2 separate regions of the Homo sapiens genome follow, and region 1 is linked to region 2. The links come from fine-mapping of genetic effects on gene expression. A gene starts in region 2. The other region holds a variant in brackets. All regions are shown on one strand. Distances are from middle to middle.

Region 1 (4,398 bases), 86 kb after region 2:
TACAATTCAAGGTGAGATTTGGGTGGGGACACAGCCAAACCATATCATTCCACCCCGGCCCCTCCCAAATCTCATGTCCTCACATTTCAAAACACAATAATGCCCTTCCAACAGTCCCTCAAAATCTTAACTTATTCCAGCATTAATCCAAAAGTCTAAATCCAAAGTCTCATCGGAGATAAGGCAAGTACCTTCCACCTATGAGCCTGTAAAATCAAAGGCAAGTTAGTTACTTCCTAGATACAATGGGGGTACAGGTGCTGAGTAAATATATCCATTCCAAATGGGAGAAATTGTCCAAAACAAAAGGGCTACAGGCCCCATGCAAGTCCTAAATCCAATAGGGCAGTCTTAAACCTTAAAGTTCCAAAATGATCTCCTTTGACTCCATGCCTCACATCCAGGTGACGCAAGAGATGGGCTCCCACAACCTTGGGCAGCTCTTCCCCTGTGGCTTTGCAGGGTACAGCCATCCTCCTGGCTGCTTTCATGAGCTGGCATTAAGTGTCTGTGGCTTTTCCAGGTACACGGTGCAAGCTCTCGGTGGATCTACCATTCCGGGGTCTGGTGGATGATGGCCCTCTTCTCACAGCTCCACTAGGCGGTGCCCCAGTGGGGACTCTGTGTGGGGGCTCCAACTCCACATTTCCCTTCCACACTGCCCTAGCAGAGGTTCTCCATGAGGGTCCCACTCCTGCAGCAAACTTCTGCCTGGACATCCAGGCATTTCCATACATCCTCTGAAATCTAGGCAGAGGTTCTCAAACCTCAATTCTTGACTTCTGTGCATCCACAGGCCCAACACCACATGTAAGCCACCAAGGCTTACCCTCTGAAGCAACAGCCTGAGTGGTATGTTGGCCCCTTTTAGCCATGGCTGGAGCTAAAACAGCTGGCATGCAGGGCTCCATGTTTGGAGGCTGCAAAGAGCAGGGGGGCCCTGGGTCCAGCCCATGAAACAATTTTTCCCTCCAAGGCCTCCAGGCCTGTGATAGGAGGGGCTGCCATGAAGGTTTCTGATATGCCCTGGAGACATTTTCCCCATTGTCTTCGTGATTAACATTTGGCTCCTCATTACTTAATGCAAATTTCTGCAGCTGGCTTGAATTTTTCCTCAGAAAAGGGGTTTTTCTTTTCTATTGCATCATTGGGCTGCAAATTTTTTGAACTTTTATGCCCTGCTATCCTTTTAAACATAAGTTCCAATTCCAAACCACATCTTTGTGAACATATAAAACTGAATGCTTTTAACAGCAACCAAGCCACCTCTTGAATGCTTTGCTGCTTAGAAATTTCTTCCACCAGATGCCCTAAATAATTTCTCTCAAGTTCAAAGTTCCACGTATCTTTAGGGCACAGGCAAAATGCTGCCAGTCTCTTTGCTAAAACATATTAAGAGTCACCTTTATTCCAGTTCCCAACAATTGTTCCTCATCTCCATCTGAGATGAGCAGCATTTGGTCAAAGCCATTCAACAAGTCTCTAGGAAGTTCCAAACTTTCCCACATCTTCCTGTCTTCTTCTGAGTCTTCCAAACTATTCCAATCCCTGCCTGTTACCCAGTTCCAAAGTTGCTTCCACATTTTCAGGTATCTTTGCAGCAGTGCCCCACTACCCAGTACCAATTTACTATATTAGTCCATTCTCATGCTGCTAATAAAGACATACCCAAGACTGGGTAATTTATAAAGGAAAGAAGTTCAATGAACTCACAGTTCCACCTGGCCAGGGAGGCCCCACAATCATGGCAGAATGCAAAGGAGAAGTAAGGCACATCTTACATGGCAGTAGGCAAGAGAGAGCTTGTGCAGGGGAATCCCCATTTATAAAATCATCAAATATTGTGAGACTTATTCACTATCTGAGAACAGTATGGGGGAAACTGCCCTTATGATTCAATTATCTCCACCTAGCCCTGCCCTTGACATATGGGGATTATTACAATTCAACGTAAGATTTGGGTGGGAACACAGAGCCAAACCATATCATGGGGTTTCAGCATGTTGCTTAGGATGGTCTCGAACTCCTGGGCTCAAAAGATCTGCCCACCTCAGCCTCTCAGTGCTAGGATTACAGGCATGCACCACCACTCTCAGCCAAGTTCATACTTTTGAGTTCTTGCTACTTGCCCAGCACTATCCAGGCCCTATCCACATGTCATTCCACTAATGCAAGCCCACACCAAATCCTGCCAGCTCCACCTTCAAAACACATCCAGATATCTCCCACCCCCAGTGATTCCTTTC[C/A]TGCATTGCCCCTGCAGCCTAACCAACCTCCCTGCTCTTCCTTTTCTCTCCTCTACAGACTATTCATCCAGCAGCCAGAATAATTCTTTTAAACATCCAAGTCATCATAATTTCACTCCTGTTCAAAATCCTTCAAAACTTTCCAGTCACTGAAAGCAAAAAGGCCAAAATATTTAAAAGGCCCTAAAAACTTTATCTACAGGATCCAACCCTGACTACTTTTATAACTTCATTTTCTACCACTCTCCACCACAATGGTATCCTTGAAGTTTCTTAAACGCTTGAAGCCTATCTCAGGGTCCTGAGTAGTAGACCTGGAATATCACTCCCCCAGATAGCCTTGTGGCCTATCTCTCACTTCCTTAAGTGTATGATCAATTGTCACCCTATTAAAGAGACCCTCCCTGACCACACTATGTAATACTAACCAGCAGAGGGTAGCTGAATGAACTACCATATAGCCACCCTATGAGGGACTGTACAGCTGTGAAAAAGAATGAGGTGGATCTCTATGAAGTGATAGGGAATGATTTTCCAGATGTATGGTTAAGTGACAAAAATGAGATACAAAAAAATACATAGAGTGTTACCTTGTTTAAGAAGGGTAGTTAGAAAAAAAAAAAAGAATCCAAATAACTTTTTTTTGTTTTGTTTTGTTTTTTTGTTTTTTTTTTTTGAGACAGAGTCTCACTCCGTCACCCAGGCTGGAGTGCAGTGTTGTAATCTTGGCTCACTGCAGTCTCTGCCTCCTGGTTCAGGCCATTCTCCTGCCTCAGCCTCCTAGGTAGCTGGAATTACAGGCGTGTGCCACCATGCCCAGCTAATTTTTTGTTTTAGTAGAGACAGGGTTTCACTGCGTTAGCCAGGATGGTCTCAATCTCCTGACCTTGTGATCCGCCCGCCTTGGCCTCCCAAAGTGCTGGGATTACAGTCATGAGTCACTGCACCCGGCCAGAATCCAAGTAACTTTTGAATATAGTATTGCATATTCACTGGGATATACAGATATTTCTTATTATGGAGTTATATCTTGAAAAACTCATTGTAGAGTTGAAAAATCTTAAGTCGAACCATTGCTAAGTTGGAGACTGTAATGAAAAATAAAAGGAACTGTAAAGAAATCTTTAACTGTATTTAGTAAGTTTGTAGTTGGTAGTAGATTGGTATAGCAACTGTAAAATGATTTGGGGTTTAATGTAGATTAGGAAAATATACTGATGCTACTAAGAACAGAGTTCTCACTGTGGGAGTAAGGAGATGCAAATATGGAAGAGCAGAAGAGGCAGAAGAACTAAGCAGCAAGATTATTAGTGTTAGAAGTATCAGGGTGAACTCCTGACTTTGTAAAAACTCTATTTCTTAACTTTGAAAACTGACAAGGCTGAGAAGCAATGACTCTGGTACCTGTGGGCACACTTTGCACCCAGAACTTGATTTCTAAATACCATCTCTCACTAAAAGAAACCAGGGAACCTAATGATTCGAAGGCTGAGGCAGGAACACTACAAGATGAGTCCAGAACATCTTTCTGTGCCAGAAAGTAAGGAAGTGTTTAAAATCAAACAGGAACAAACAGAGCAAAAGGACTCTGAAGCTTGAAGGTGTTCCCACTTGTCAAATGTGGGGTTGCCGAGCATCAAAATGGATGACAGGAATGCCATATTTAAAAAAGAATCCATGAGTCCACATAACCTTCTAAAATAAAAGAAAAAAAGGGAGGATGTGTGTGCAAAAGCTATCCATTACTGAACAATGTAAACTAATAAATATATATATAGAGAGAAACAGAAGAGAAAATTGCTGGGTGGCTCATGCCTATAATCCCGACACTTTGGGAAACTGACTTGGGAGGATTGCTTGAGCCCAGGAGTTCAAGACCAGCCTGGGCAACATGGCAAAACCCCGTCTCTATAAAAAATACAAAAAAATTAGGTGGACGTGAAGGCATGTCCCTGTAGTCCCAGCTATTTGGAAACTGAGGTGGGAGGATCGCTTGAGTCTGGGAGATCAAGGCTGCAGTGAGCCATAATTGTGTCACTATACTCTAGCCTGGGCAACAGAGTGAGACTGTGTCTCAAAAGAAAAGAGAAAAGGCAATGAAACAAAGAAGGAAAGAAGGGAAGGGAAGGGAAGGGAAGGGAAGGGACAGGAA
Region 2 (4,398 bases):
GTGTGCCTGCATGACAGCACACAGCCAGCATGCAAACCATGACCTCATATGCACTTAACACTTGACTATATCTCTTTGGCGACTAGACTCTACTCCTTTGGACAGGGACTTCTTAATTCTGTATTTCTGAATGGCCTAGTGCTGGCTGTGACACAGGGTAGTTATATAATTGATGGTGTTGATTTGAATTGTCCAGTTTGAATAAAGAATTTTCTAAATGAGTCGACATTATGACACAATGGATATAGATGAGACCATTAATGCATTTGAAATTTACACTAGTGGACACATGATGGTAGATGCTATAGATACAGGAACCCATGCAAATTCCAACTTTGAGAAACTAGTAACCTATTTCGAAATTATACCTTCTCCTGTTCTTCATGGGCAAAGATGATCCAAGCATGGAGGACATGACATTTAAGCCTTCTTCCCAGTGTAAGGGATGTGCCTTCAGCTAAATTTTTCTCTCAGTCAACATTTATGGGCACCTACTGTGTGTTAGGCACTGTACTATGGGCTGAGTATTCAAAGAAAAACTAGGCACAGGTGAATCGTAAATGGAGAGCTACGGGTCTAGTGGGGCTGAAGGCACTTTCTCAAGGAACTCATGGCACTGAAATAGCTGCTGCTTGAGAAGTATGGCCTAAGCTCCATGGGAGTGAGAAGGGATGAATTCTTCCTGGGGCCAGGAAGGGAGGATGAAATCAGGAAAGGCCTCCCAGAGGAGCAGATGTTTGAAGGATGGACAAATCCAGATGGACAATAGAGTATGTATTCTAGGCTGGAGGGTATTAACCAAAGCATGGAACCCCCTCAGTTCTTTGGGAGGAGAACAGTCTCCTCTGCTCTCACTGTAGCTGGTGGCTTGATTGCTGACCAAGGTCAGGGTGACACCTTTGGCCAAAGAATGGGGCATTTGCTTCTAAGTCAGCCAAGGGCTCTTTCTGTCTGAAAATAGCTGCCTGAATTCATTTCCCCAATTAGTCCCAGAGGCCAAAGATAGGAGCAGGCTTTCTCCACCAGCAGGGCAGAAACTGCAGCTAGAAAGCCGGCCCTGCAGCATGAGGAACCCCTGGGGAGCTGGCAGGAGACCTTGAGGTCTGACCGGCTGTGTTTGGATGGACCCTCTCTAGCTCTTTCCCCGTCATGTGACTGAAAACCTTATCATAATGAAAGCTGTAAAAATGCCAAACTTTAACCTTATTAAAGTCACACTGTTCTGGTCTTGGCAACCATAATAGGATTTTACAACTCAACCTCTCTGACTAGAGTCCTTGAACAGCCCAGGGTCTGTCAGGGTCCGTGATGGGTGACTTAATGCCTTCAGGGACTGGTGCCCACCCACATTCCCACCCTCCCTGTGTCCATCCACCACCCGTGCTCACCGTGGCCTTCCATATGGCCTCCTGTTTTGTTACTCATAGAAATGGAGAAATTTCCACTACCATGGACCCCAGGAAAAACATATGAGCATACCCTACAGCACTTACCAGCTGACATGGTATTTTCCTCCGGATTAATGAAGCACAGTGGAATTTTAGCAGTTGCTGTAATGATTAATATGTCAAATCCATATTGCAGGAGAGGGAAACAGGAAAGCGATGTGAGAACCTAGGAGGGGGGAGGAAAAACAATGGGAAGGGAAGAGAGGTAGCAAAGCCAAAGAAGGACAGGGAAGGAAGAGAAGAACAAGGGAAGGACAGGGCAAAGTGGGGAGAGAGGAACACGGACTCCCACAGGGGTTGGATCAAACAGGCTCGAGCACATTTAGGGACTTCCTCCTGCCACATTGGTAGGAAGGTGGGTCAAGTCAGTTCCTGAGGAGAGGTCTCCCAGGAGCAGTTATTAGCATAAGGTTCTACATGTCGGGAGGTCATGGACCTTGAAGATTTGAGGAAAGGTATGGGGTTTATCCCTAGAAAAAAAATACACATAAAGGGGTTTACTAAGCCCCTAAACCTCCATGAGAAAACACAAAAATGAAAAAACCCTGGGTTCAGCTGACGGTGTTTCTGGAGCTGGGACTGTGTCATCCCTGTCAGCATCCCCTCTCCATGTGATGCCTTTCAGAAACAAGTTTGGAAAGATGACAATGGCGTCAGCCACAATACACATTCTGTTTGCTGAGCCTCTGTCTTGCCCTGTGAGCGCCCACCCTCTCCTCCCCACCTGCAGGCCCACCGCCATGCAGCTCCCAGGATGAGGTCATGCTTACTCACAGGGTCCCTTCCTCCAACTCTAGGCAGTCCAGTGCCCCTACATGAAGTGGTGTCCATGCTGTGCGTGAACATGCTCCGCAGTCTTGAGACCATTACACGGCTGGACAAAGGAATGCCTGGCCAAGCCACCAATGGGAAATACTTTGCAATGCAAATGAGTCCTCCAAAGCCAAGCATTCCCCTCTCCTGCTAATTACTTTTACCTGGTTGCATTAGAAATCCTGGCCAACATGGTGAAACCCCGTCTCTTCTAAAAGTACAAAAATTAGTCAGGCATAGTGGCACACGCCTGTAGTCCCAGCTACTCGGGAGGCTGAGGCAGGAGAATCACTTGAACCCAGGAGGCAGAGGTTGCAGTGAGCCAAGATCGCGCCATTGCACTGCAGCCTGGTGACAGAGTGAGACTCCATCTCAAAAAAAAAAAAAGAATGGCTTCATATTCTGTATAGTCAGGAGCTGGCTCAATGTTAATGTCATTGTCTCTCCTGAAATCACCTGTCAGTGCAAGAGACCTCTGAATTTCCTTTCTTATTTCTTGATCTAAGCATGTATATAGTGTCATGGGCCAGGTTAATTAAAGCTCACTGAATATCACATACTATCCTCTGAACAATCATACGTGTTGCTTCTTTAAAAGCAGGAAAGAAAAAATCAGGTTCTATATGGCCTACCAAGCTTAAATCGTCTCTGTGATGGGAACTGTACAAAAGTCAACAGGTCAACAACAAACACTAGTTTACATACTCAGTAGGTGAAAGAGTGAGCCAATTCATAGATTTCATTTCTGATTGTATTTTTTAACATTTTATTTTCAAAGAATTATAAATCCACAGAAGGTTGCTAAAAGGTGGAAACAACTCAAATGTCCATCGATGGATAAATGGATAAATGTGGTACAGTGGTCCCCCCTTATCCTGGGGGGATACATTCCAGGATCCCCCAGTGGATACCTGAAACTGTGGATAGTACCGAACCCAACTGCTGTCAGTGGGAACACATTTCTGTTCACATATTCCACCTACAATTTAACGCCTTTTCCAGCTTAACTAAACACTTACCAGTATTGTGGTCGTAACTTGCGGTTTGAGGTGTGACAGCAAAACTAGCACGAATTTCTTTTTTCCCTTCACAATTTCACAGATAGAAGATTCATTCCTAACTATAGATCTTAGCAGCCTCAGCATATCATTTTTTTTCTTTCCTGAAGCCGAGAATTTTCACCTTTTCACTTAAAGGAAGCACTTTATGGTTTCTCTTTGGTATATTTGAGTTGCCAGCATCACTACACTTGTGCTTTGGGGCCATTATTAAGTAAAATAAGGGTTACTTGAACACAAGCACTGCGATACTGGGGCAGACAACCTGGCAACAAAGATGGCTATTAAGTCACTACTGGGTGGAGAGTGTAGACAGAGTGGACACGATGGGCAAAGGGAGGGTTCATGCCCTTAGCAGGATTCAGCAAGATTTTATTATACCTCTCAGAACTACTCACAGTTCAAAAGGTATGAATTGTTTATTTCTGGAATTTTTCATTTAATATTTTTGTATTGCTGTTGACTGTGGGTAATTGAAACTAAGGAAAGTAAAATTGTGGATAAGCAGGGATGGGCTACTATACATACAGATAATGGAATAGTATTCAGCCTTAAAAAGGAAGGAAATTCTGATATGTTTCTATGACATGGATGAACCCTGAAGACACTATGCTAAGAGAAATAAGCCAGTTACACAAAGATAAAAACTCTGTGATTCCACTTAGATGAGGCACTTATACGAGTAGTCAAATTCAAAGAGACGAAAATTTGAATGGTGTCTGTCAGGGGCTGGGAGGTGAGGGGAATGAGGAGTTGTTTCATTGGTATGAACTTTCAGTATGGGAAGATATAAAAAGTCCTCTGGAGATGGATGGTGGTGTTTGTTGCATAATAATGTGAATATATTTAAAGCCAACAAACTGCGCCTGTAAAAATAGTTACAATGGTACATTTTATGTTATGTATATTTTACCACAATCAAAAATTGACAAGAAAGTCCCACAGACACTTCACTAGGCCAATCCAGTGTAACAGCTTGCATGACTATAATACATTATCAAAACCAGGGAACTGACATTGGTACAACCCAGACTCATTCAGACTTCACAAGTACTCGTGTGTGTGCGCGTGTGTGCGTG

The links. PIP is the estimated chance that this variant, and not a neighbour inherited with it, causes the effect.
Region 1: its variant is fine-mapped to the expression of LINC01762 in whole blood (TOPMed, PIP 0.99).

What each region holds. Positions count from the first base shown.
Region 1 is chr1:116,562,818-116,567,215 of GRCh38, forward strand. The region is part of intron 1 of CD58 (CD58 molecule); the gene reads right to left. Among named protein-coding and RNA genes, the nearest start is that of MIR548AC, 4.9 kb to the left of the region's middle. The variant C/A (reference allele first, on the strand shown) is at 2,247.
Region 2 is chr1:116,476,559-116,480,956 of GRCh38, forward strand. LINC01762 (long intergenic non-protein coding RNA 1762) reads right to left here and starts at 2,268. Exons shown (of 4, transcript NR_125972.1): 1 at 2,223-2,268; 2 at 1,494-1,614. It overlaps LOC112268235 (a long non-coding RNA gene), which reads left to right and starts at 2,664. Exons shown (of 2, transcript XR_002958352.2): 1 at 2,664-4,398. RefSeq lists an enhancer at 1,713-2,272.